Homo sapiens: one gene and its partners. The protein of the gene in region 5 purifies or fractionates together with the protein of the main gene of each other region. This does not show direct contact. Each region holds a gene or a part of one and is shown on either strand. Other genes may lie near its edges. The genes, in order: FLCN, HTR1E, CLEC2D, NPTN, WDFY3, RIC3 and VSIG4.

The links.
Region 1: the proteins of WDFY3 (region 5) and FLCN purify together in Homo sapiens (affinity purification with mass spectrometry; 2 studies listed by BioGRID and IntAct, with this or other methods). This does not show direct contact.
Region 2: the proteins of WDFY3 (region 5) and HTR1E purify together in Homo sapiens (co-immunoprecipitation; one large-scale study listed by IntAct). This does not show direct contact.
Region 3: the proteins of WDFY3 (region 5) and CLEC2D purify together in Homo sapiens (co-immunoprecipitation; one large-scale study listed by IntAct). This does not show direct contact.
Region 4: the proteins of WDFY3 (region 5) and NPTN purify together in Homo sapiens (co-immunoprecipitation; one large-scale study listed by IntAct). This does not show direct contact.
Region 6: the proteins of WDFY3 (region 5) and RIC3 purify together in Homo sapiens (co-immunoprecipitation; one large-scale study listed by IntAct). This does not show direct contact.
Region 7: the proteins of WDFY3 (region 5) and VSIG4 purify together in Homo sapiens (co-immunoprecipitation; one large-scale study listed by IntAct). This does not show direct contact.

What each region holds. Positions count from the first base shown.
Region 1 is NC_000017.11:17,216,669-17,220,168, forward strand, and holds part of FLCN (folliculin), read right to left. Parts: exon of another isoform or gene 2,899-3,500; intron 2,542-2,898; coding exon 2,351-2,541; intron 515-2,350; coding exon 401-514; intron 1-400. UniProt on the Homo sapiens protein: Multi-functional protein, involved in both the cellular response to amino acid availability and in the regulation of glycolysis.
Region 2 is NC_000006.12:86,940,528-86,944,027, reverse strand, and holds part of HTR1E (5-hydroxytryptamine receptor 1E), read right to left. Parts: intron 1-3,500. UniProt on the Homo sapiens protein: G-protein coupled receptor for 5-hydroxytryptamine (serotonin). Also functions as a receptor for various alkaloids and psychoactive substances.
Region 3 is NC_000012.12:9,683,213-9,686,712, reverse strand, and holds part of CLEC2D (C-type lectin domain family 2 member D), read right to left. Parts: intron 1-3,500. UniProt on the Homo sapiens protein: Receptor for KLRB1 that protects target cells against natural killer cell-mediated lysis. Inhibits osteoclast formation. Inhibits bone resorption. Modulates the release of interferon-gamma. Binds high molecular weight sulfated glycosaminoglycans.
Region 4 is NC_000015.10:73,563,890-73,567,389, reverse strand, and holds part of NPTN (neuroplastin isoform b precursor), read left to right. Parts: exon of another isoform or gene 1-452; intron 453-3,500. UniProt on the Homo sapiens protein: Probable homophilic and heterophilic cell adhesion molecule involved in long term potentiation at hippocampal excitatory synapses through activation of p38MAPK. May also regulate neurite outgrowth by activating the FGFR1 signaling pathway.
Region 5 is NC_000004.12:84,816,691-84,820,190, reverse strand, and holds part of WDFY3 (WD repeat and FYVE domain-containing protein 3), read left to right. Parts: intron 1-4; coding exon 5-106; intron 107-2,605; coding exon 2,606-2,799; intron 2,800-3,500. UniProt on the Homo sapiens protein: Required for selective macroautophagy (aggrephagy). Acts as an adapter protein by linking specific proteins destined for degradation to the core autophagic machinery members, such as the ATG5-ATG12-ATG16L E3-like ligase, SQSTM1 and LC3.
Region 6 is NC_000011.10:8,141,526-8,145,025, reverse strand, and holds part of RIC3 (protein RIC-3 isoform a precursor), read left to right. Parts: intron 1-3,500. UniProt on the Homo sapiens protein: Molecular chaperone which facilitates proper subunit assembly and surface trafficking of alpha-7 (CHRNA7) and alpha-8 (CHRNA8) nicotinic acetylcholine receptors.
Region 7 is NC_000023.11:66,033,581-66,037,080, reverse strand, and holds part of VSIG4 (V-set and immunoglobulin domain-containing protein 4 isoform 1 precursor), read left to right. Parts: intron 1-3,250; coding exon 3,251-3,500. UniProt on the Homo sapiens protein: Phagocytic receptor, strong negative regulator of T-cell proliferation and IL2 production. Potent inhibitor of the alternative complement pathway convertases.

The DNA of each region.
Region 1 (3,500 bases), on a different chromosome or scaffold from region 5:
AGGGTCCTCCACCACCAGGTCCCTAACTCTTGTCTGGACCGCCAGTCACACACCAGCTTGTACCGCCCCTCGCTCTGTGGTGTTAACTCATATTAATGTTTGCCTGCACAGATGTTTGTCTCCTACCGCATCCCACAAAGAAGCTTTTACCAAGACTGTGTCATATGCATTTTTGTTCCCTCTCAGGCCTGGGCAGTCAGCAGGCACACGCATCCTTCTGATGATTTAAACATCATCAGACCAGACCCGGGTCTCCGTGCCCACTGCGCCCCCAGTGGAGACCGTGTGGTGCACAGCGGTTCTGTGCTGGGCAGTCGGTGCACCTTGGCATCCCCACCTGACGCCAGGCACCAGGCCAATACTGCCCTGCGCCGCACACCTAAGGAAAAGATGTTCTCACCCGAAGTACTTCAAAAGCTGACTGGACGAGGTCCACGTCTCTGCTTTTCCAGATCACCTGGTTCCCCATGAGAACGTGCCAGGCCAGCATGCGGAAAGAAGGGGCACCCAGGACCTAAACAAGAGAGTGCAGTGCTTTCAGCGTGACTAGTAGAAATGGTTTTTCTCTCCCTTCCCATGAAGTTATTTGTGTGTTCATAAAACTTTGTAGAGCAAAGACAGGGCTCAGGAGAAAGACACTTATCTTCTCAGGGAGGCGGGTGCCCGGCCCAGGGTTAAAGGGGCAGAGAGAGAAGTTCCAGGTTTGCACATAAATGCTAGATTCCAAAGCTCTTGCTCCAAGATCTTTCTCCCAGTTTTGTTTTTAAAAATTTGAAGCAAAAAGATGTTAACTTTGTGCAATATTCACCTTCTCTCTACAGACACTTTCTGCTGAACCATTTGAAAGCAAGCTGTAGGGCCCTCGACATGGCAGCACCCAGGAGAATAAGGGCATCTCCACAGCTGAGACCATGACTGCAGCCAGGAGTGCCTGGACGGACGCATCTGACATCCAGCCGTGTGCACAAGCCCAGGGCTGCTGCCTGCTTGACGGCTGCTGTTCTTTGGATCCAGGAGATACTACAGGACCCATCATGGCTTTTAGTTGTCACGTCCTTATTCTTTAACCTAGAACAGCCTCTCCCCACACCCCACCTGTTATTAACTTCCATGACATTGACACCTTAGGAGAGTCCAGCCTGCTGTCTCACGGCTTCTAAGAAGCCAAACCCAGCTTTGAAACACAACATAAGAGAGAGGCCACAATACTATGTCTCACCAAACCCCAACAGCCTCAAAGTAGTCCCACCTCCAGAGGAATTCCAGACCCCTTCCAACCTTCATCAACATAAGCAACGGACAAGGAAGGTTTCAGCCAAATGCAGGATTTTGATGGAATGGGTGTTTACATCCAGAAGCCCCAAGGACATCTGCCATGAAATCAGTCTCACTCCATTTTCAAAAACAAATAACTCTCTTCTAATGAATCAGTGCTCATTGGAAAAATTCATGCAGAAGAATTTTATAAGAAGGCAGCCTGCCCTTGTAATCCAGCAACCCACACCCCTCTCTCCCGGCATCTGACTCGATGTAACTGGAGACAACACTGTTAGATTTTGTCGTGTCTGGCAGGCACACATGTACATACATCACCCTGAACACACAGTGCCTGCTTTATTTCTTCTAATTAATCATATTCCATGGTTTGGCTACTGTTTACTAGTATGGTTTGATATGCAAGTTGTTCCTAATTTTTTGTAAGAATGACCATCACTTTCTTTTTTTTTTTTTTTTTGAGATGGAGTCTCGCTCTGTCACCAGTCTGGAGTGCAGTGGTGCCATCTTGGCTCACTGTTAACCTCCACCTCCCAGGTTCAAGCGATTCTCCTGCCTCAGCCTCCAAGTAGCTGGGACTACAGGCACATGCCACCATGCCCAGCTAATTTTTGTATTAATAGAGATGGGGTTTCACCATGTTGGCCAGGCTGGTCTCGAACTCCTGACCTCGTGATCCGCTCCCCCTTGGCCTCCCAAAGTGCTGGGATTACAGGTGAGAGCCACCACGCCCAGCCAGACCATCACTTACAATGGGCAGGGTCCAGGCTGCATCCAAACCAATTACAGTGCTGTTCAATGCCTTTAGGAGCTTCTTAGAGGATTAGAGGACCATGGGATGCCAACTATCTGGGCTTTTCTTTGAAGATACTTAGGTCATCACTGAAAGGGGAGCACTGATCCTATGGCTAATACCCCCAACGCCCTGTGCCCTCAGCCACCCACCGAGGAGGCTGTCAGTCACTTCCTGCAGGGTTTTGAAGGTGGAGGGTCCAGAGGCAAGGCGTGTGGGCAGGGACAGCCCATGACTGGCTCTCCTCCTGAGCTCCTGATGCGCTGTGCCCCTGCCGCCTACCTGCCTCATGTGCCGGAGGGACTTGAAGACTGGCAGCTTCCGGGGCTGCCAGCTCCCACAGCCTGAGAGAGAGGAGGACTCTGCCGGGCCCTGGGTCAGCTCCCGCCCTTCTGTACTCTCTGGCAACACAGGGGCTTTCTCCTCCTCTTCAGCCTCAGAGTTGTCCCAGCTTTCTGATTCCTCTTCTAAATCTGCAAGACAGATGACAAGGACAGTTACAGATACAAACAGTCTCATCCTGTGACTTCAGCCCAAGATACTTCATGGGCTGAGCCGGTCAGTGTAGATTCCTGGCTGCGGCCAGGTCCTATGCTCCCTGCTCCCTGTTGCTCTGGGAGCCCTGGGGTGGGAGGGAGGGCTCAGTTGCTGTCTACTTAGCCCGGGGTACCACACATCTCTCTTAGAAGCACTTATGGAAAGACCGTCAGCTGTTCTCTGCTGGTGAGAAAACTCAAATCAGTAAGAAAAATGCCAACAGCGTGTCTACGGAACACACCCAGTCGGCCACAGTTCTCGAGGATCTACACGTTGTTTCTTTTTTTTCCACTTTTTTTTTTTTTTTTTTTTTTGAGACGGAGTCTCACTCTGTCGCACAGGCTGGAGTGCAGTGGCGCAATCTCGGCTCACTGCAACCTCCGCCTCCTGGGTTCAAGCGATTCTTCTGCCCCAGCCTCCCAAGTAGCTGGGACTACAGGCACCTGCCACCATGTCCGGCTAACTTTTTTTGGTATTTTTAGTAGAGACGGGGTTTCACCGTTATCTGCCAGGCTGGTCTCAAACTCCTGACCTCATGATCCCCCGACCTCGGCCTCCCGGTCCACTTTTGTTTTAGCTTGAGGGCGTACGTGTGCGGCTTTGTTACAAGGGTATGCTGCGTGGTGCTAAAGTTTGGGCTTCTATGAATCCTGTCACCCAGACAGTGAACCACAGGAAGTAATATGCCCAGATAGTATCCAATAGAAAGCATTTCAGCCCTTCCTCCCCTTCCTCCCTCCCTCCCTCCTTCTGGAGCCCCCAGTGTCTACTATTCCCATCTTTTTTATTTGAGACAGTGTCTCGCTCTGTTGCCCAGGCTGGAATGCAGTGGCACGATCACGGCTTACTGCAGCCTCAATCTTCTGGGCTCAAGTGATCCTCCCAACGAAGCCTT
Region 2 (3,500 bases), on a different chromosome or scaffold from region 5:
TGTCAACAGCCACGTGAGCGAGCTTGGAAGCGTTACCTTTCCCCAGTTGAGCCTTGAGATGTCTGCAGTCTCGGCTGAAACTTTGCAGCCTGTGAGTGACAGACCTGAGCCAGAGGACCTAGCTAAGCCATACCCAGATTCCCAACCCATGGAACTATGATCATAGAGATAATAAAAATCTGTTGCTTTAAGCCATTAGGTTTTGGGGTAATTTATTATTTAGCAATAATGAATACACACATTTAATCCTCATAAATAGCCCTATGACATAGTACTGTTATGTGAGCCCCAACAAATGAGGAAACTGAGGTTTAGAGATGTGAAAGCAGTTAATGAATGGCAGAGCTGGGATATGAACCTGGCTTTCTGGACTCGAGAGCTTGGGCTTGAGCCCCATGCTGTGTTACCCCCTAGTAGTATAACACAAGGTGCAGTTTGACATCACAGGTGACAATGAATCACAATAGCATATTCTGTTTTGAGAAACTTCCCTGAAAGGAGGCTGAGGTAGACAGGGCATGTATTATTGTCCCCATTGTAACGATGACAGACCATGCAGCTCATACAGCCAAGAGAATGGGGTATTAACCCAGGCCTTCTGACCCCAGGTCCGTAGAGTTGGGCCTGTGCTTCACTGCCACGCTGGCACTGTGGCACTCACTGTACATTCAGCAAGCCCTGAGGAAGCTGGCGGGAGCTTAGCTGACATGCACAGGGTAGGTCAGTTTGTTCTCTGGAGAGCATTCCATGAGATGCAAATATCTTCACACAGGCCTGGGTTAATACCCCATCCTCTTGGCTGTGTGTAGACCCTCTCACCCTTAGATTCAGACTCATTTTACTAAACAGGCAAAACATAGCTACAAATTTCATGTATTTTAATATAACAGGACTATGTGGTAATAGTAACAATACTATGTAATCATTAACTGTTAATTAAATGCATGCTAATGGTACATAAGTCTGAGAAAGGGTACTCAGTACACTTAATGCAATGTGAGAGATTATCTCAAAGCCAATGGGACCCGGCTGGACATCTTTTGTGCTGGAGAAATTACTCCATCTGCATCACAAGAGCATTGCCTCTGTCACCAAGCTGAAAGTAATCAAGTCTTGTGAGCTTTGAGACTTTTGCTTCCTCTAAAGTCATTTTTCATCCCTTCTTGGTAAGATGCTTCATTTATATGTAAGTCACCAAACCCTGGGGTCAGTACAGTCTGGTTCTCCAATGCCTCGGACATAAAGTAAAACCTTGATGGTCTTAGAAACAGGCTTACTGTATTGCAGAGAGGGTGAGGAGATTACATTGTTTTACCAGTTTACAATCTATGAAATAAAATATGCTTGCCAATATGAATGCATCTTGTAAATGATGTATTTGCTAATTATAAATTAAGTTACATATTTAATCCTTGATTTTTTAGAGCATTGTGTAAGGAATTGAATTAGGTTCAGAAGGAAAGAATGGTAAGAAAGTTAAAATGGCTCAAATGAAAGCATAATAAAAGAGGAAATCATGCTTCTTTCTTTGAATGTTAAATTATGATGAACTATATGGTAGGATAGTGTTTATGGATGACTGTATATCAAATTCTTGTGTTAGGTAACAAATACTTCCTTGACTAGGGCAGAGTTCAACATTAAAATTAGGACTATGTAATAAAGTTTAAAATGTAAGGTACTTAAGTAAGTATACAATTCTTGTTTACTTACAGGAAAGAATTAATTACAATGACAAACTACACTGTCAGAAATCATATAAGGATAAATATTACTGAATTCAGAGGGATGAGTTTGGAATGTGGAATCCTTTTCTGTAGGTTCTTCTTCCTCCATCTTCCTCAGATGAGGTGGGCTTTCCTTTCCCATTTTTCTTGGATGCTAACAGCATCTTTTATACCTCTCAGGCATGTTTTCTGCCCAACAGTGTACAAGCGTAATATAAATCCCTATGATTATATTGTCGCTAACCAGGCAAGCTATTGTAGCTAGCCACCTTACTGGGTTCTCTTATTCTTTCTAATGGCATTTTTATGTATCCCCTTGAATTTTCCTAGTAGCTAATTATTTAATCTGTCATTAATAATAAAACTTTTCCCTGACCAATATTTATAACACTTCCCTCCTTCCCTCCTTCCCTTCCTTCCTTCCTTCCTTCCTTTCTTCTTTCCTTCCTTCATTCCTTCCTTCCTTGCTCCCTTCCTCCCTCCCTAATGGGGTCATTAGGAGGATCTGAGAGTTTTAGAACTGCTAGCTGCTGCTGCTGGTAGCTATTTCTCAAAATATTTTCTTCTTGCTATAAAATGCTTTCCTTCTCATACCAGATTTCATAAAGACCTTCCATCTGGTCTGCACTGATAACTAGAATCCAGAGATGCTCATTCCTCTTACAACTTGTAGTTTAAAATGATCCAGATGCAGAAGGATTAGGTTTCATAGCTTCTTCTAAAGGATTTTGTCTTCCTAATCCTACAACTGCATGTGTTGAGAATTGATCAGCATGAGAGAGTGCTAACAATAAACCTATTAAAGTGTCCAGTTTTTCATTTGACGTGTTTTAGGGGAATACAACAATGGGATCAAAACACTGACATCTATTCAGGTAAGGACTGCAGTAAACCAGATAATCCACAGTGCATGAGACAAAATAAGAGAACTAAAAATGAAAGACAAAATTATAGTCAATCTGTATTAGAAAGAGGGTTCTCAAGAATTTTATCAATTTGTTGTGATCCGGGAATATGCCAATTGATTGAGTGATCTCTATAAATTCTGGTTCTCAGTTTCTTAATCCACAAAATGTGGGAACGAATAAAAAGTAGCTGGGATTTTGATGAAAGTCCTTTCATCACCAGGAAGATGAACTTTGGTAAGTTGACTGACCTAAGCCCCAAATTTTAGGGGCCACAATACTGGTTCTAGAAAATGATTCAGGGAGGAGAAAACAAGAGAGAAGTAAGTCACTCTAAAGTGCTGCTGCCCCATTTCTCTTCCCTGTTCATCTGTCCCCTCGTCACTTGTGACGGCACACTCATCTTCAATGTTTCCCTGGGGTTTATGTTCATATAATTTCACATGTAATAAAAATCTGGTAGGTGCAGAAGAAAGGAGCATAAAGCATGAGATGCTAAACTCACCTCTGCCTTGAGATGGCCTTGATAATTTACGGCATAAAAAGTAAGTTCCTATTTGGTAGAAATTCAGCTTTTGATCAGTCTCAAGCTTATTTTTTTGTGTAAATAAGCTTGTAGAAATAGAGGGAATGCTTTCCCACATTAGAGCGTTAGATTTGATCTTTCACTTTTAAAGGGTAGTGCAGAAATAGAATTCCAGGGTGGGCAATCAAAACAAACATGAAAAAAATGATCTGTGTGTAAAAGTGAGATGTAGGGAATTAGACTTGAGTAATGAGAAGATGACACAAAAGTTCAGGGCCTGAGGCTTTCTGCAAAGAGACCTACTTTCTTTTTCTTTCTTTTCTTTTCTTTTTTTGAGACAAG
Region 3 (3,500 bases), on a different chromosome or scaffold from region 5:
CTGAGCCCCTAGTAGCTACCAGTTCATCTTCTATTATATAACCACCTTCTACCTTCAACTCAATGGTTCTGAAAGTGTCTATGATAGACCAGAATGCTGGGTATTCATAGAATCATTACTATCAATTGGCACCATTATCCTTGGATTTGGCTCTTGTGAGATGAGAAATCACTCTTAGTTATGAATAATAACTGGTGTAATCTGAATAACAAATCATAACATGAGGCAAACGTGTATTGTATCTGGTTTGGTATCACAAACAAGGTGATACCAAATTATAACTATTAAAATGTAATTTCTTGAACCAGACCATAATGCAGGATGACTTTCCCCAAATCTGTGCATATTTGTTGTGCTATCACTGCTCCTGTATCAACCAATTTAAAGAAAACGACCAGACCAGAGAGGGCAAGATGGCTGATTAGAAACAGCTCTGGTCTGCAGTTCCCAGTGAGACCAATGCAGAAGGCAGGTGATTTCTGCATTTCCAACTGAGGTACCAGGATCATCTCACTGGGACTGGTTACACAAGTGGGTGCAGCCCACAGAGGGCAAGCAGAAGCAGGGTGGGGCGCTGCTTCACCCAGGAAGCACAAGGGGTGGGAGAACTCCCTCCCCTAGCCAAGGGAAGTTGTGAGGGACTGTGCTGTGAGGTGCTATCTGGCCCAGATACTACGCTTTTCCCACGGTTTTTGCAACCCACAGACCAGGAGATTCTCTGGAGTGCCAACACTACCAGAACCCTGGGTTTCAAGCACAAAACTGGGTGGCGATTTGGGCAGTCACCAAGATAACTGCAGGAGTTTTTTTCATACCCCAGTGGAGCCTGGAACCCACTGAGACAGAATCATTCACTCTGCTGGAAAGGGGGCTGAAGCCAGGGAGCCAAGTGGTCTTGCTCAGTGGGTCCAATCCCCACAGAGCCCAGCAAGCTAAGACCCACTGGCTGGAAATTCTTGCTGCCAGCACAGCAGTCTGAAGTGGACCCCAGATGCTCAAGCTTGGTGAGGGGAGGTGCATCCGCCATTACTGAGGCTTGAGTAGGTGATTTTCCCCTCACAGTGTAAACAAAGCCCTGGGGGAAGTTCGGACTGGGCGGAGCCCACCACAGTGCAGCAAAGCCAGTGCAGCAAAGCCACTGCAGCCGGACTGCCTCTCTAGATTCCTCCTCTCTGGGCAGGGCATCTCTGAAAGAAAGGCAGCAGCCCCAGTCAGGGGCTTATAGATAAAACTCTTATCTCCCTGGGACAGAGCACCTGGGGGAAAGGGTGGCTGTGGTCACGGCTTCAGGAGACTTAAACATTCCTGCCAGCCAGCTCTGAAAAGAGCAGTGGATCTCCCAGCACAGTGCTCGAGCTCTTCTGAGGGAAAGACTGCCTTTTCAAGTGGGTCCCTGACCCCCATGCCTCCTGACTGGGAGACAACTCCTAGCAGGGGTTGATAGGCACCTCATACAGGACAGCTCAGCTGGCATCTGGTGCGTGCCCCTCTGGGATGAAGCTTCCAGAGGAAGGAGCAGGCAGCAATCTTTGCTTTTCTTCAGCCTTTGCTGGTGATACCCAGGCAAGGAAGAAATGGATAAATTCCTGGACACATACACCCTCCCAAGACTAAACCAGGAAGAAATCAGATTCCTGAATAGACCAATAACAGGTTCTGAAACTGAGGCAGTAATTAATAGCCTACCCAACCAAAACAAGCCCATGTCCAGACAAATGCACTGCCGAATTCTACCAGAGGTACGAAGAGGAGCTGGTACCATTCCTTCTGAAATTATTCCAAACAATAGAAAAAGAAGGAATTCTCCCTAACTCATTATATGAGACCAGCATCATCCTGATACCAAAACCTAGCAGAGATACAACAAAAAAGAAAATTTCAGGCCAATATTCCTGATGAACATCAATGCAAAAATCCTCAATAAAATACTGGCCAGCCGAATCCAGCAGCACATCAAAAGCTTATCCACCACGATCAAGTCAGTTTCATCCCTGGGATGAAAGTCTGGTTCAATATATGTAAATTAATAAATGTAATCCATTACATAAGCAGAACCAATGACAAAAACCACATGATGATCTCAACAGATGCAGAAAAGGCCTTTGATAAAATTGAACACCCCTTCATGATAAAAACACACAATAGACTAGGTATTGATGGAACATACATTAAAATAATAAAAGCTATTTATGACAAACTCATAGCGAATATCATACTGAGTGGCCAAAAGCTGGAAGCATTCCCTTTGTAAACTGGCACAAGGCAAGGATGCCCTCTCTCACCACTCCTATTCAATATAGTATTGGAAGTTCTAGTCAGGGCAATCAGGTAAAAGAAAGAAAGAAAGAAAGTGTATTCAACAGGAAGAGAGGAAGTCAAATTATCTCTGTTTGCAGATGACAGAATTGTATATTTAGAAAACCCCATTGTCTCATCCCCTTAAAACTTATTAAGCTGATAAGCAACTTCAGCAAATTCTCAGGATACGAAATCAATGTGCAAAAATCACAAGCATTCCTATACACCAATAACAGACAAACAGAGAGCCAAATCATGAGTGAACTCCCATTCACAATTGCTACTAAGAGAATAAAATACCTAAGAATACAACTTACAAGAGATGTGAAGGACCTCTTCAAGGAGAACTACAAATCACTGCTCAAGGAAATAAGAGATGACACAAACAAATGGAAAATCATTCCATGCTCATAGATAGGAAGAATCAATATTATGAAAATAGTCATATAGCTCAAAGTAATTTATAGATTGAATGCTATTCCCATCAAGCTACCATTGACTTTCTTCACAGAATTAAAAAAAAAAAAACTTTAAATTTCATATGGAACCAAAAAAGAGCCTGTATAGCCAAGACAATCCTAAGCAAAAAGAACTAAGCTGGAGGCATCATGCTACCTGACTTCAAATTAAACTATAAGGCTACAGTAACCAAAACAGCATGGTGTTGGTACCAAAACAGATATATTGACCAATGGACAGAACAGAGGCCTCAGAAATAACACCCAACATCTACAACCATCTGATCTTTGACAAACCTGACAAAAACAAGCAATGGGGGAAAGGATTCCCTATTTAATAAATGGTGTTGAGAAAACTGGCTAGCCATATGCAGAAAACTGAAGCTGGACCCCTTCCTTACACCTTACACAAAAATTAGCTCAAGATGGATTAAAGACTTAAACATAAGACCTAAAACCATAAAAACCTGAGAACAAAACCTAGGCAATACCATTCAGGACACAGGCATGGGCAAAGGTTTTATGATTAAAACACCAAAAGCAATTGCAACAAAAGCAAAAATTGACAAGCGGGATCTAATTTAACTAAAGAGCTTCTGCACAAAAAAAAAAAAAAAAAAACAAACACAAAAAACAAACTATCATCAGAGTGAACAGGCAACCTACAGAATGGGAGACAAATTTTGCAATCTATCCGTTTGACAAACAGCTAATATCTAGAATCTACAAGGAACTTAAAAAAAT
Region 4 (3,500 bases), on a different chromosome or scaffold from region 5:
TATCAGATAACCATCTGTGGCTCTGTGTTGGATTTTTTTTATACCATTAGGAAAATGGGAATTTTTTTATAGGCCTGCCATACTTCTACTTTGCCAAATAGCACTTTATTATCAAGATACACCCATGGCTCATTTCAGACTCACTGAACTTTTTTTATATGAATGCACAGTCGTCATATTTTGGGCAGTCTGTGAGTTCTTGGTAACTCATCCCCTTACTACAAAAGCACTAAGTGAACAATACAAAAGTATAAAAGCACAAATTTGAACTTACATAGTTTAGTTTAAGTATGTTTCACTAGAAAATCAAATATTTAGATTTCTCACATTGAAAATGCTTAGGATTGAGGTTTAGCTGCTTCCTTTAAAAAAAAAAAAAAAAAAAAAGCCCCATGTCTTTTTTCTTTACCTACTGGAGTATTCTCAGACCATTTCCTACATGAAAACACCCACCTGCATTCCTTTAGTCCCCTGTATGGTCTCTTTGAGGATCAGTGCCCACTAGGTTGTCTTGTAGGTGGACTAATCTACAGATCACCTTTACCTTCAGTATTTTCAGGAACAAGTGAATCATGGAGTCAAATAAGAGCTTTGTTTTGTTCACTTGACTCACCACTTGACTGTATTCCCTGAAAATGTTAAATGATAGTTCTCTAAAAAGACCAGGTCAAGCTAGCAGCCTCTAGGCTTCCATCCATGTCACAGCTGGGCACCTGCTTGGGTGCACCTTCTGTGTTGGTGTCCTGCGGACTGCACTCCAGGAGCAGTCAGCCTGTGCTCCTGAGTCTCCCCTCCCCAGGCCCTGGAGGAATGGGGAGTGAACCCACTTAGTTGCTGAGGCCTGCAGTTCTTCTGGATATTTTAGTGACCTCACAGACAGCAAATTAAAACAGGAGCTGATTTAAGAAAAGAAGTGCTGGTACCAAAAAAGAACTTTCTGTTTTTACCTTGGGATAATTTTTTATAAGCAAGTCAAAGGGACTCTCTTTAAGTTACTGATGGAGAAGATATTTGAGGTTTTTTGGGGGGCCATTTTTAGTGGCTCTGATATATCCAAGCTCTTTTAGACACTTTAGAATGAAGAGCTGTTCTAATGTTCCAAAATCTATTCGTTGGTCAAAACATTTGGTAGCATATGAAGCTTTATACAGACTAGGGATATTGGAAAAGAAATGTGACTTTTAAAATGACACCTAAAACATGCATTCGGTGTCTGGTCTGTTAACTAGGGGCCATCTGGGTCAATAACAAGTTACCTCATGGAGAAAATGCAATAGGACCAAACAAGGAAGGAAATAGGAAGTAACTCAGTCTCTCTTGGGTTTAATGCTAACCTGCTAAGGTCAGGCAAAATTTAAGTGGATTTAGAAACCATAAAACCTTCTAGTGAGATGAATGCAGTGACAAAGGACCTTTGACCAGAGAGTCAACTCTTCATTATTCGGACTTTAAAGCCATCTTTTTGGAGGTGATATTGTATTAGGCAATCCGTTATTTACTAGACATTGCAGAGCACCCCTTCTAGATGATGAGGCGGATATAGGGGGAGTGAGGGCTGTGGTCCATTCGGTTGGGAAGATGGAACACGCAGATAAATCAGTGTGTGCTACAGTTCCACCGGTAACTTCACTCTCATAAGGTGGATTCCAGAAGCATCTTGTTTCCATTATCCCCCCAGTCCTCTTCCTCTCATCTAGCCAGTGGCTGTAATACTGAGGTGGAGAGAACAGTCATTGTTTAAGCTGGCTATCTTTTGGCCTGAGGGTTTGGGGTATGTTGATATTTGTCGGTTACTATGACTTCTTTTTTTTCCCCCCTCAATTGCATCAAACCCTTAAAACATGGTGGTAAGTGAGCGATATGCATGCTTTTGGAGTTTGTTTAATCTCCGCTTCAGTCTATACGATGCACAGTTCATAATGTTAACACTTTTCTTCAAGTTTACTTCATTCACTTTCACAACTAATTTGGATTTCAGTTTGCTGTTTAATCCTCATTTACTTTGGTTTCTGTATCTTTTTTCTGTAATTCTGTTCTTTCCCTCTCCCCTGACTTCCCTGTTAGGGGTCAAGTCGTTTTTTTGTCTGACCTGTAGGGGAGAGTGGTGCTGCAGATAGTGATTCAGTCCAGGAGAGTGGGGAGACATGAGGCTCTTTTGTTTGTCAGTGTGAAAGTGGATTTGGGGAGACAGATGAAGAGGGCTCCTGGGATTTTGCCCCCTTGTGAATCTCAACTGCTCCCACTTGCAGGCATGGCAGCTATGCCGGAGGCACTGTCGCTAAAACACCTCCATGCAACCCTTTGCATGTTACCAGCTTGTTGGGCTGGAAAGTGACATTACTAATCAGACACCAGGGAATACCCACACTCCAAAAGGAAAAACAGCCCGTGGTGTGAGGTGCTTGGGTTGGTGCCTACAGTGTCATGCTTTGAAAAGATTAGCCTGGCTATTGCGATTCTCCCTCCCCTGCTTTTTATTTTAAATTTGGGAGTAGATTGGTGTATTCTTGATTCGGCTCTCTTGCATTAGAATTTTGTATTTTCGAGTGCACAGCCAGAGCACTAAAAGTATTCCAAGTTTGCTCCTATGTCTTTTCATTTAAATCCCCAAAGTGCTTAGTTCCTAGCATGTAGCTGAGCTGGCTTGGCCGGGATGCTGAGCATTAGGATGTTGTGAGGGGAGAATTTAGGCTGGGCTTTTGTGTCTTAGTACCTGGTATGTCTTTGTATCTCTCCACTGCATACACAGCACACAGATGTCTTGGGTGTCCTTAAGTCTTAGTTTGTTCTCTGTACCCGTTTGATAGTGTATACTGTTGTTAGTAGTGGACTCCTGTGGACACTAGTGTGTCGCTAGCCTATTGTTTTGGCTGATGAGTCATTGGTTTGTGGTTAGTTCTTTTTTTTGAAATCCTTTTTTGCTCCAGTCACTGTGTGTGCTGGCGGTGGCTTTGCCTCTCCGTTGCCTCGAAGGAACAGGTGGAGCAATGTCTCCCTCTGACAGACATTACTCCCGACATGTGCTCCTGCAGATGCCTACACTGAGACTGTAATCTCCATAACTGCTTCATGTGCACCAAGCCCCCTTGTGGAATCCTGCTGAGAATTTTTCTAGAAGCCTTCAGTGAAATCAAACTGTTCTGAATCATTTAGTTTACCTGACTTTTGTATAATAAAAACAAACTAAGAGCACTTACTTGTTCCCTTCCCCTTGTGGGTCTTTTTAAAACATTCTCTCTCTGTGAATGTGTATCTCTGCTTAAAGGGGATCAAGTTGCACTTAGTTGAAACACGAAAGACTTATAAATCAGAATCATAAAGTATCAATTTAAGAAGGCTTAAACTCATATAATGTCAGCTTTTTGATTTTAAAAAAGTTATCTCATGGCTCCCCTGGGTTTGGCTTCTGGTTTTGGCCAGGGCACAGGAGTGAGCCTGTCTTTCTGAAGTCTTTTCTAGAGGGATGTCACCACTGTTCAGCTTTCCTCGGTGTGTCACAG
Region 5 (3,500 bases):
TTAGGGGACTCAAGAAATAATAGTTCAGTTGAAGACCAAAAACACCTGGCTTTATTGGTTATGGAGACCTTGACAGTGCTTCTTCAAGGATCAAACACAAATGCAGGTAATTTAAAAAGCTGCAAGCAAATACTTTGGGAGATTACCACTGATTACATCTTCTGTGGTTATTCTTGCTTCTGAAATCTTCCTGTCACTTTAGAGAAAAAACTATTGATTCAGTGATGGTACCCGTCATGTCCCTAAAAATGCAGTGCTTTTGACCATCAGGAGCACCTTGATGACAAAACATATAAGATTGTTACTATTTCAAAATGATGTTTAAATTGCTTTTTATAGTGTCTTGTGTTGAAAGTATTCTTCTAATTTTTTATTGATACACTCTTACTCAAATAAGTTGCTATTTAAATTCTTTCTAAAATATTTTCTTTACACAGTGATTTAAAGAATATTTTTAGTACTACAAGTTAGAGTATTATAATGTTACAACCTTCAGGAAATACTGAACAATGATTCTCTAATAAAACGTAATCTCTCCAAGGTTAATTAACTTTACTAAATATTTTGTTTAATTTTGGTCTCAATTTCTCTTTTATACTTTTCTACCTGTCATTAACAGATAACCTAACTATATTTATAAAATATCACTCTTGCTTTTTAAAAAAGATTACTTGAGATTTTAATTAACATCAAACAACTCTCAGGTAATAAGTTCAGTACAACTTGAGAGGAATAATGAGTTCAGATTAGTAGGCTGGGCTCAAATCATAGGGAGCTTTTTAGGCCATGGTAAGGAGCTTGAAATATATTTTAAGTGTTATGGAAAGCCATGGATGAATGAACCCCATGCCCAAATGCATGACTGTTTGCCTGAATGCAGGGAAACTCAGCATTCATCATATTTAAAATATATTGTGTATCCCAGGTACCATGCTAGCTAGGTGTTAGATTATTCTAACACCTAGATGCTAAGGTAAGATCATTCTTGCTCCCTGGGAATTAGAATCTAGTGAAGAAAAATGTAGACACATAATTATAGAAGTAATTAGTCTGATACAAATTTGGCAAATGCTAAGATAGACTTGAATGAATTTAACAGGTAATTGAAACAATGAGTATGATGAATTTTAGTGGATACTATAGTAACATTTTGTCTATGGCATAATGCATAATCTTATTTCCACTAACTAGGTTTAGTTAACTGAGATAATCAGAAACATAATGAAGATAGACTAACAGGAATTTGCTTAGCAAATTAGCTTTCCTTGAGACGACCTAGAAGTTGCACAGGAAGAGATTGGACAATTGGAGAGCTTACTCTGCACGACTAAAAGTCACTTAGTACATATCCCAAAGTGCCAAACAATTTCATACAATTCTTTTCAGTTTTTCTTTTCCCAGTATGAAAGATGTTACTAGCTGTGTGATGTTAGGCATTTAAAACAGTACTTTACTCATAGTTTAAGTATTTAAATAATATTAGCCATTATGATTATCTAGTGGGTCCTAACTGACAACCAGGAGGTAACTAAACAGGCCTTCAGGTAATGAAAGGATGTCACAAATTCCATGTGCTGAATCTCAAGCACATGGCTTAGACTGACTTCATGATCTTATAATTTTTATAAAGTTAACAAATAGAAAGCCACTAAGCAGAGAGGACAGTGGCTGCTATAGCAGAATACACTGTTTTAGTAAACGTTTATTGAAACACAAATCAGGAGAAAATCCAGTAGTCATGGAAGACCAAACATAAGCAATAATAGTAAGACTGTTTGTTATAAACCATAATAGAGATATAAACAAGATGCCCTAAAAACGTAAGGGATAGAAGAATTACTTAGAGGAAATACTAATTAGTGATTTCAGTCACTGGGCCCATTTTTTTAATACTGGAGGATGATATTAATATTTGATGTGAGAACAGTATCACTTGTGAGCAGGAGCACAGGCTTACAGAGCTGGGCTATGTAGGCATACATCCTTTTCTGTTGCTTACTAGCTGTATGACTTTGACCGCCTTACCTCTATATGGTAGGGGATGAGTATTAAGTAAGTCAATCTGTGTAAAGGCTTTGGAGCAGTAACAATGACACATACTTCTGTTACAGAATTTGTCACTTTTTGTTCTTATGCTCTACCTGTGCAACAAAACATGTTGGTTCCTTGTAATTTTTCCCATGGTGGAATAATTTATTCCATTCCTTTCTTGCTACTATTTTGGAAGCCATGTTCATTTAAATCTCCTTTATTTAGGCTATTGTTCCTCTGAAAGCCTTTTACATAAGTTGATTACAATAGAGAGTCTCCTAGGGTCTGCCTAAGAGACTTGTGAATGTTCTAGATTTTGAGAGCTTGGACATGGTGAACATATCACGGCATTAATCTTGCATTAAGGAAATGTAGAGAAAATTTGCATATACCTTTGCTGACAACCCACTGTGCAAATTTGTATTGTAATTTAAAAGGTGAAATAGTTGGGTAGGTTTTATTTACATTATTATGAGTTACTTTACCTACAAAAAATAACTGAATGTTAATTCATCTGACTTGTCTCAGAATATTTTAAAGTAGCCATTGTTGGACTTTTTCTCCTTCCTTCAAGGAATTTTTCGAGAATTTGGAGGTGCAAGATGTGCACATAATATAGTAAAGTACCCTCAATGCCGGCAGCATGCCTTGATGACTATCCAACAGCTGGTGCTCTCCCCAAATGGGGACGATGACATGGGCACTCTCCTGGGGCTAATGCATTCAGCCCCACCGACGGAATTGCAGTTGAAGACTGATATTTTAAGGGTAAGTTTGATAAATGTGTTTCCCTTCTTTTACTACTAAAATCTGTGGTTATTTTTAGATGATCTGTATTTAAGTTAGAGACAGGGAAATTAAAAAAAATCCAAATTACCCAAGAAACCTCACAACTTTGTACACGTTAGGAACTTGGAAAAACTCCAGTCATTTATGTCTTTCAGTATATATTTTACTTCTGCTGATAAACCTTTTCAGTAATTATCTTGACTTACTGGAACTCTTAAATTAAATATTAGTGAAGTATAGGATCTTAATTAATACTAAATATATGTATTTTCTGATCAGTTAAATTCACTCATAGTGTTATGCATCTGTGAAATGAATGTTAGATTTGGCATTTTATACACATGCATGCATATATGTATGTATGTAAGTAATGGATATTCTAGTAGATATCAAACAATATACCAGGAGTTATACATATGCTTTTATCATTTACTCCTTAGTAATACTATAAATTAAGTAGCACCCTGTTTTGCAGATGAGAAAACTTAGGTTTAGAGAAATCATATAACATGGATTTTGTTCACTTAAGTGACTTTTAATTAGTAGAACCGACCCCCAGATTTCAATACCCGTTTTATTTCCACAGCACCATTGTTTTATACAGATTTATACACTCACATTCTCCCATATTACTGGTTATTGATATTATAAGAAATGATATGTAAGAAATTTTTAGAATC
Region 6 (3,500 bases), on a different chromosome or scaffold from region 5:
AGTCCCCAGAGTGTGATATTCCCCTTCCTGTGTCCATGTGATCTCATTGTTCAATTCCCACCTATGAGTGAGAATATGCGGTGTTTGGTTTTTTGTTCTTGCGATAGTTTACTGAGAATGATGATTTCCAATTTCATCCATGTCCCTACAAAGGACATGAACTCTTCATTTTTTATGGCTGCATAGTATTCCATGGTATATATGTGCCACATTTTCTTAATCTAGTCTATCATTGTTGGACATTTGGGTTGGTTCCAAGTCTTTGCTATTGTGAATAATGCCGCAATAAACATACGTGTGCATGTGTCTTTATAGCAGCATAATTTATAGTCCTTTGGGTATATACCCAGTAATGGGATGGCTAGGTCAAATGGTATTTCTAGTTCTAGATCCCTGAGGAATCACCACACTGACTTCCACAATGGTTGAACTAGTTTACAGTCCCACCAACAGTGTAAAAGTGTTCCTATTTCTCCACATCCTCTCCAGCACCTGTTGTTTCCTGACTTTTTAATGATTGCCATTCTAACTGGTGTGAGATGGTATCTCATTGTGGTTTTGATTTGCATTTCTCTGATGGCCAGTGATGATGAGCATTTTTTCATGTGTTTTTTGGCTGCATAAATGTCTTCTTTTGAGAAGTGTCTGTTCATGTCCTTCACCCACTTTTTGATGGGGTTGTTTGTTTTTTTCTTGTAAATTTGTTTGAGTTCATCGTAGATTCTGGATATTAGCCCTTTGTCAGATGAGTAGGTTGCGAAAATTTTCTCCCATTTTGTAGGTTGCCTGTTCACTCTGATGGTAGTTTCTTTTGCTGTGCAGAAGCTCTTTAGTTTCATTAGATCCCATTTGACAATTTTGTCTTTTGTTGCCATCGCTTTTGGTGTTCTGGACATGAAGTCCTTGCCCATGCCTGTGTCCTGAATGGTAATGCCTAGGTTTTCTTCTAGGGTTTTTATGGTTTTAGGTCTAAGGTTTAAGGCTTTAATCCATCTTGAATTGATTTTTGTATAAGGTGTAAGGAAGGGATCCAGTTTCAGCTTTCTACATATGGCTAGCCAGTTATCCCAGCACCATTTATTAAATAGGGAATCCTTTCCCCATTGCTTGTTTTTCTCAGGTTTGTCAAAGGTCTGATCGTTGTAGATATGCGGCGTTATTTCTGAGGGCTCTGTTCTGTTCCATTGATCTATATCTCTGTTTTGGTACCAGTACCATGCTGTTTTGGTTACTGTAGCCTTGTAGTATAGTTTGAAGTCAGGTAGCATGATGCCTCCAGCTTTGTTCTTTTGGCTTAGGATTGCCTTGGCGATGCGGGCTCTTTTTTGGTTCCATATGAACTTTAAAGTAGTTTTTTCCAATTCTGTGAAGAAAGTCATTGGTAGCTTTATGGGGATGGCATTGAATCTGTAAATTACCTTGGGCAGTATGGCCATTTTCACGATACTGATTCTTCCTACCCATGAGCATGGAATGTTCTTCCGTTTGTTTGTATCCTCTTTTATTTCCTTGAGCAGTGGTTTGTAGTTCTCCTTGAAGAGGTCCTTCACATCCCTTGTAAGTTGGATTCCTAGGTATTTTATTCTCTTTGAAGCAATTGTGAATGGGAGTTCACTCATGATTTGACTCTCTGTTTGTCTGTTATTGGTGTATAAGAATGCTTGTGATTTTTGTACATTGATTTTGTATCCTGAGACTTTGCTGAAGTTGCTTATCAGCTTAAGGAGATTTTGGGCTGAGACAATGGGGTTTTCTAGATATACAGTCATGTCGTCTGCAAACAGAGACAATTTGACTTCCTCTTTTCCTAATTGAATACCCTTTATTTCCTTCTCCTGCCTAATTGCCCTGGCCAGAACTTCCAACACTATGTTGAATAGGAGTGGTGAGAGAGGGCATCCCTGTCTTGTGCCAGTTTTCAAAGGGAATGCTTCCAGTTTTTGCCCATTCAGTATGATATTGGCTATGGGTTTGTCATAGATAGATCTTATTATTTTGAAATACGTCCCATCAATACCTAATTTATTGAGAGTTTTTAGCATGAAGGGTTGTTGAATTTTGTCAAAGGCTTTTTCTGCATCTATTGAGATAATCCTGTGGTTTTTGTCTTTGGCTCTGTTTATATGCTGGATTACATTTATTGATTTGCGTATATTGAACCAGCCTTGCATCCCAGGGATGAAGCCCACTTGATCATGGTGGATAAGCTTTTTGATGTGCTGCTGGATTCGTTTTGCCAGTATTTTATTGAGGATTTTTGCATCAATGTTCATCAAGGATATTGGTCTAAAATTCTCTTTTTTGGTTGTGTCTCTGCCCGGCTTTGGTATCAGAATGATGCTGGCCTCATAAAATGAGTTAGGGAGGATTCCCTCTTTTTCTATTGATTGGAGTAGTTTCAGAAGGAATGGTACCAGTTCCTCCTTGTACCTCTGATAGAATTCGGCTGTGAATCCATCTGGTCCTGGACTCTTTTTGGTTGGTAAACTATTGATTATTGCCACAATTTCAGCTCCTGTTACTGGTCTATTCAGAGATTCAACTTCTTCCTGGTTTAGTCTTGGGAGAGTGTATGTGTTGAGGAATTTATCCATTTCTTCTAGATTTTCTAGTTTTTTTGCGTAGAGGTGTTTGTAGTATTCTCTGATGGTAGTTTGTATTTCTGTGGGATAGGTGGTGATATCCCCTTTATCATTTTTTATTGTGTCTATTTGATTCTTCTCTCTTTTTTTCTTTATTAGTGTTGCTAGCGGTCTATCAATTTTGTTGATCCTTTCAAAAAACCAGCTCCTGGATTCATTAATTTTTTGAAGGGTTTTTTGTGTCTCTATTTCCTTCAGTTCTGCTCTGATTTTAGTTATTTCTTGCCTTCTGCTAGCTTTTGAATGTGTTTGCTCTTGCTTTTCTAGTTCTTTTAATTGTGATGTTAGGGTGTCAATTTTGGATCTTTCCTGCTTTCTCCTGTGGGCATTTAGTGCTATAAATTTCCCTCTACACACTGCTTTGAATGCGTCCCAGAGATTCTGGTATGTTGTGTCTTTGTTCTCGTTGGTTTCAAAGAACATCTTTATTTCTGCCTTCGTTTCGTTATGTATCCAGTAGTCATTCAGGAGCAGGTTGTTCAGTTTCCATGTAGTTGAGCGGTTTTGAGTGAGATTCTTAATCCTGAGTTCTAGTTTGATTGCACTGTGGTCTGAGAGAGTTTGTTATAATCTCTGTTCTTTTACATTTGCTGAGGAGAGCTTTACTTCCAAGTATGTGGTCAATTTTGGAATAGTTGTGGTGTGGTGCTGAAAAAAATGTATATTCTGTTGATTTGGGGTGGAGAGTTCTGTAGGTGTCTATTAGGTCCACTTGGTGCAGAGCTGAGTTCAATTCCTGGGTATCCTTGTTGACTTTCTGTCTCGTTGATCTGTCTAATGTTGACAGTGGGGTGTTAAAGTCTCCCATTATTAATGTGTGGGAGTCTAAGTCTCTTTGTAGGTCACTCAGGACTTGCT
Region 7 (3,500 bases), on a different chromosome or scaffold from region 5:
TATATTATATTATTATATAATATATATTATATGATATATTATATTACATTATATATTATATTATATGATATATTATATGATATATTATATTATATGATATATTATATTATATATTATATAATATAATATAATATATCATATAATATATCATATAATATAATATATCATATAATATATTATATAATAAAATATATAATATAATATATAATATAATATATTATTATATATATAATATATTATATAACATATTATATATATAATAATATATAATATTATATAATATATTATATTATATATAATATAATATAATATATATTATATTATATTATATATTATTAATATATTATAATTATATAATATATATATTATATAATTATAATATATTAATAATATATCGTATTATATATATTATATTATATTATATATTATATTATTAAAATATTATCTATATTATAAATATATTATATTATATTTTTATTATATTATAATATTACTTCCTTTATTATTACTTCCACTTTACTGATAGTGACTCAAAGTTCAGATAGGTTTAGTAATTTACCCAAGGTCACACAGAGAGATATGTGGTAAGGCAGACCTTGCGCTTAGATCAGTGTTATTCCTACTACATCATACAGTCCTTCATTACCCTCCTGCTCTCATTAGGGGCTCCTACTTGATTCTAGGGGAACTACAAGGAAAGGTAGAAGGTACAAGTCAGTGGTATTGTGGTTTACTTCACTTTGGAGATCAGAAAACATGAGGAATAGTACAATGTCATTTTTCTTGTGATGTCCTGTACCTATAATCCAGTCTCTTTATGCAACTAATGAAGCAGGAGGAGGAAGAGGAGATAAGAATAAGAAAAAGAAGAAGGAAGAAAAAAGGAACGGAAGCATAATGGAACAATGAGTGGAAGAAATAAAGGAGGAAGAAGGGAGAGGAAAAAAAAAGTAAAAGGGGAAAAAACATGCCATTTTGGGAAGTCTAGTTACCAACTCTGTCCTATTCATTCTGGGATGGAGGAGTTAAGCCTGACCTACTTCCAGAAGTGATTTTCAAAACTGAGAAATTGAGACTATCTAGCAATTTTCTTGATAGGCCAGACTGAGCTTTGTGAGAATTTCCAGCAAATTCCCAGGGAGGAAAAACACAACCCAGGCCTTTCAGCTCCCCTAAGGTCAGAAGGAAGACCTGCATATGCATAGACAAAGGCATTTTCAACTCACAGCAGAATGCTGCTTTGTTGCCCAAGAGGGGAATGTGAGAATGCTTTTCAGAGAAGAGGAGGGACATTGGGAAAGTCCAGAGGAAGATTAATGGGAAATAGCCTATTAAACCAAGAGGCTCAGATAGTTTTCATGGGGTTTAAGCATGGTATGTTTGTGCTTGCATGTGGCCAAAAATATGTATGGGCATGTGAGTCCATGATAATGAAAAGCTGTATCTGCAATCACATGGAGGTGTGAACTATCTATGGCACAGTGAAACCCACTACCTGGTGAAAATTCACCACCAGCTGGAACCTATAATTACATAACTTCTATTTCTATTATAGCCTATTAACACTTGACCACCTAAGATTAGAAGGGACCTTAAAGAGCAAGGCTAAGACCCAAACAAAGCCTAGAACTTCCCCCAGACAGTTTAATCCATCCATAGACAGCTCTGATTAATCACAAAGTTCGTTCTAAGGCAAACCATCTGTTCTGCGATGTGAAAAGCAGACAAGAATAACATAAAAAGAAATAGAATTAGGAAAATAGAGCAAACCAAAATCTGCCCCTCTTGTATTCCCATTCGTAGGTCTGAGTTCTGCTCTCTGCCAAATTCGAAGCATTCCAGAGAGTATGTAGTGGATCTAGCAACATGGACTTATGTTATTTATTCTTTTCTACTCAAGGGCTTTTTCTTGACTAAAATATGCTATTGATGTTCTAAGGGTCCCTGGTGAGGGCACAGGCTAGAGGCTTGATTTTATATCTCTATTAACAGAAGTCCTGATGCTGGACAGTATATTCTGGGAGTTAGAACGCATACACTCAACCCATCCAAAAGATGTCATCTTCCATCCGCTTGACTGAATACTGGGATTTCTAGGCTCAATAAAAGACTTTTATTCAGGAATACCTCATATCTTTGAAACCACCTCTCTTAGGAGAGACATGAATATATTGCCTAAATATACCCACCCCACACTCCTGGCCCCAGCTAAATAAAACAAAAAATCTTCTAAATAAGAGCTTATGGATGGAAAATTCTGATGGGAGGCAATGGCTGTTTCAACATCCCCACCTCCTTCCCCACCCCCACCCCCATCCCCAAGGGTTTCCTTCTCAAACACGCCAAGGAGCAATCTCCCATTGCTTCTATCACCACCCCTACTACAGCCAGCTTCAGGATTTCACTCAGAACCTTTTCCTCTCTAGACCAAAAATGGATGCAATCTTTTCCCCCTCAAGATGAAATTTTCCTATGTATCCTTGCTAAGAACTAAGAGAAACCAAAAGGAAAATAAACAAAAGAAATCAGAAAAAAAGTCAGGTTTACAAAGTGCAGGTTTTGAATTTAACAATAGCTAATGATTTTGTTAAACAGGAATGTGTATCCAGACTTCTTCCTCACACTTGGTTCCACCCTCAGTATTTCCTTTTGCCTGTCTTCCAGAGAACATCTTAGGGTTGGGACCCCACTCACTGAGGATTTCTAAGGGAACAAGAGAAGATAACAGGGCAGAGGGCCCTTTCTTGCTGATCTCAAAAGCCTCCACCTTTCTCCAGGTGCAAATTTACACAAAATGAAATAGTCCAGACCCAAATGCTTAGCATTTTTGCTTCCACATCTCTTTTGGAAAATGTGAAAAGAAAATTTTTTCATGGATTTGCAGAATGACAGATTTGATAGAATATCTAGAGCACCTACCACCCAAACTCTCCACATTATAGATGAAGTAAATGAATCTTCCACGGTAAGAAGGTGACTTACCTAGGATCACCTTCATAGCAAGACAGTAACATAAAAAGGACTTGAAACTCACAAGATCTAAACAATGTTAAAGGCTTTCATTCTGAAGACTGGTTCTGATTGATGAGAAGGCTGGCAAAGAGCAAAAGGGCACAGGTACACAAAAGTGTGATAGAAAGAAAGTTGAGTGGCATTTCTCAGAAACCTTTTGAGGTTTGTCACTGTCACCTTAGTTGCCAAGTAGGTATGCCATCTACGTTTGCTTCTTTCCTCTGTTCCGCCTCTTCAGGCCGTCCCATCCTGGAAGTGCCAGAGAGTGTAACAGGACCTTGGAAAGGGGATGTGAATCTTCCCTGCACCTATGACCCCCTGCAAGGCTACACCCAAGTCTTGGTGAAGTGGCTGGTACAACGTGGCTCAGACCCTGTCACCATCTTTCTACGTGACTCTTCTGGAGACCATATCCAGCAGGCAAAGTACCAGGGCCGCCTGCATGTGAGCCACAAGGTTCCAGGAGATGTATCCCTCCAATTGAGCAC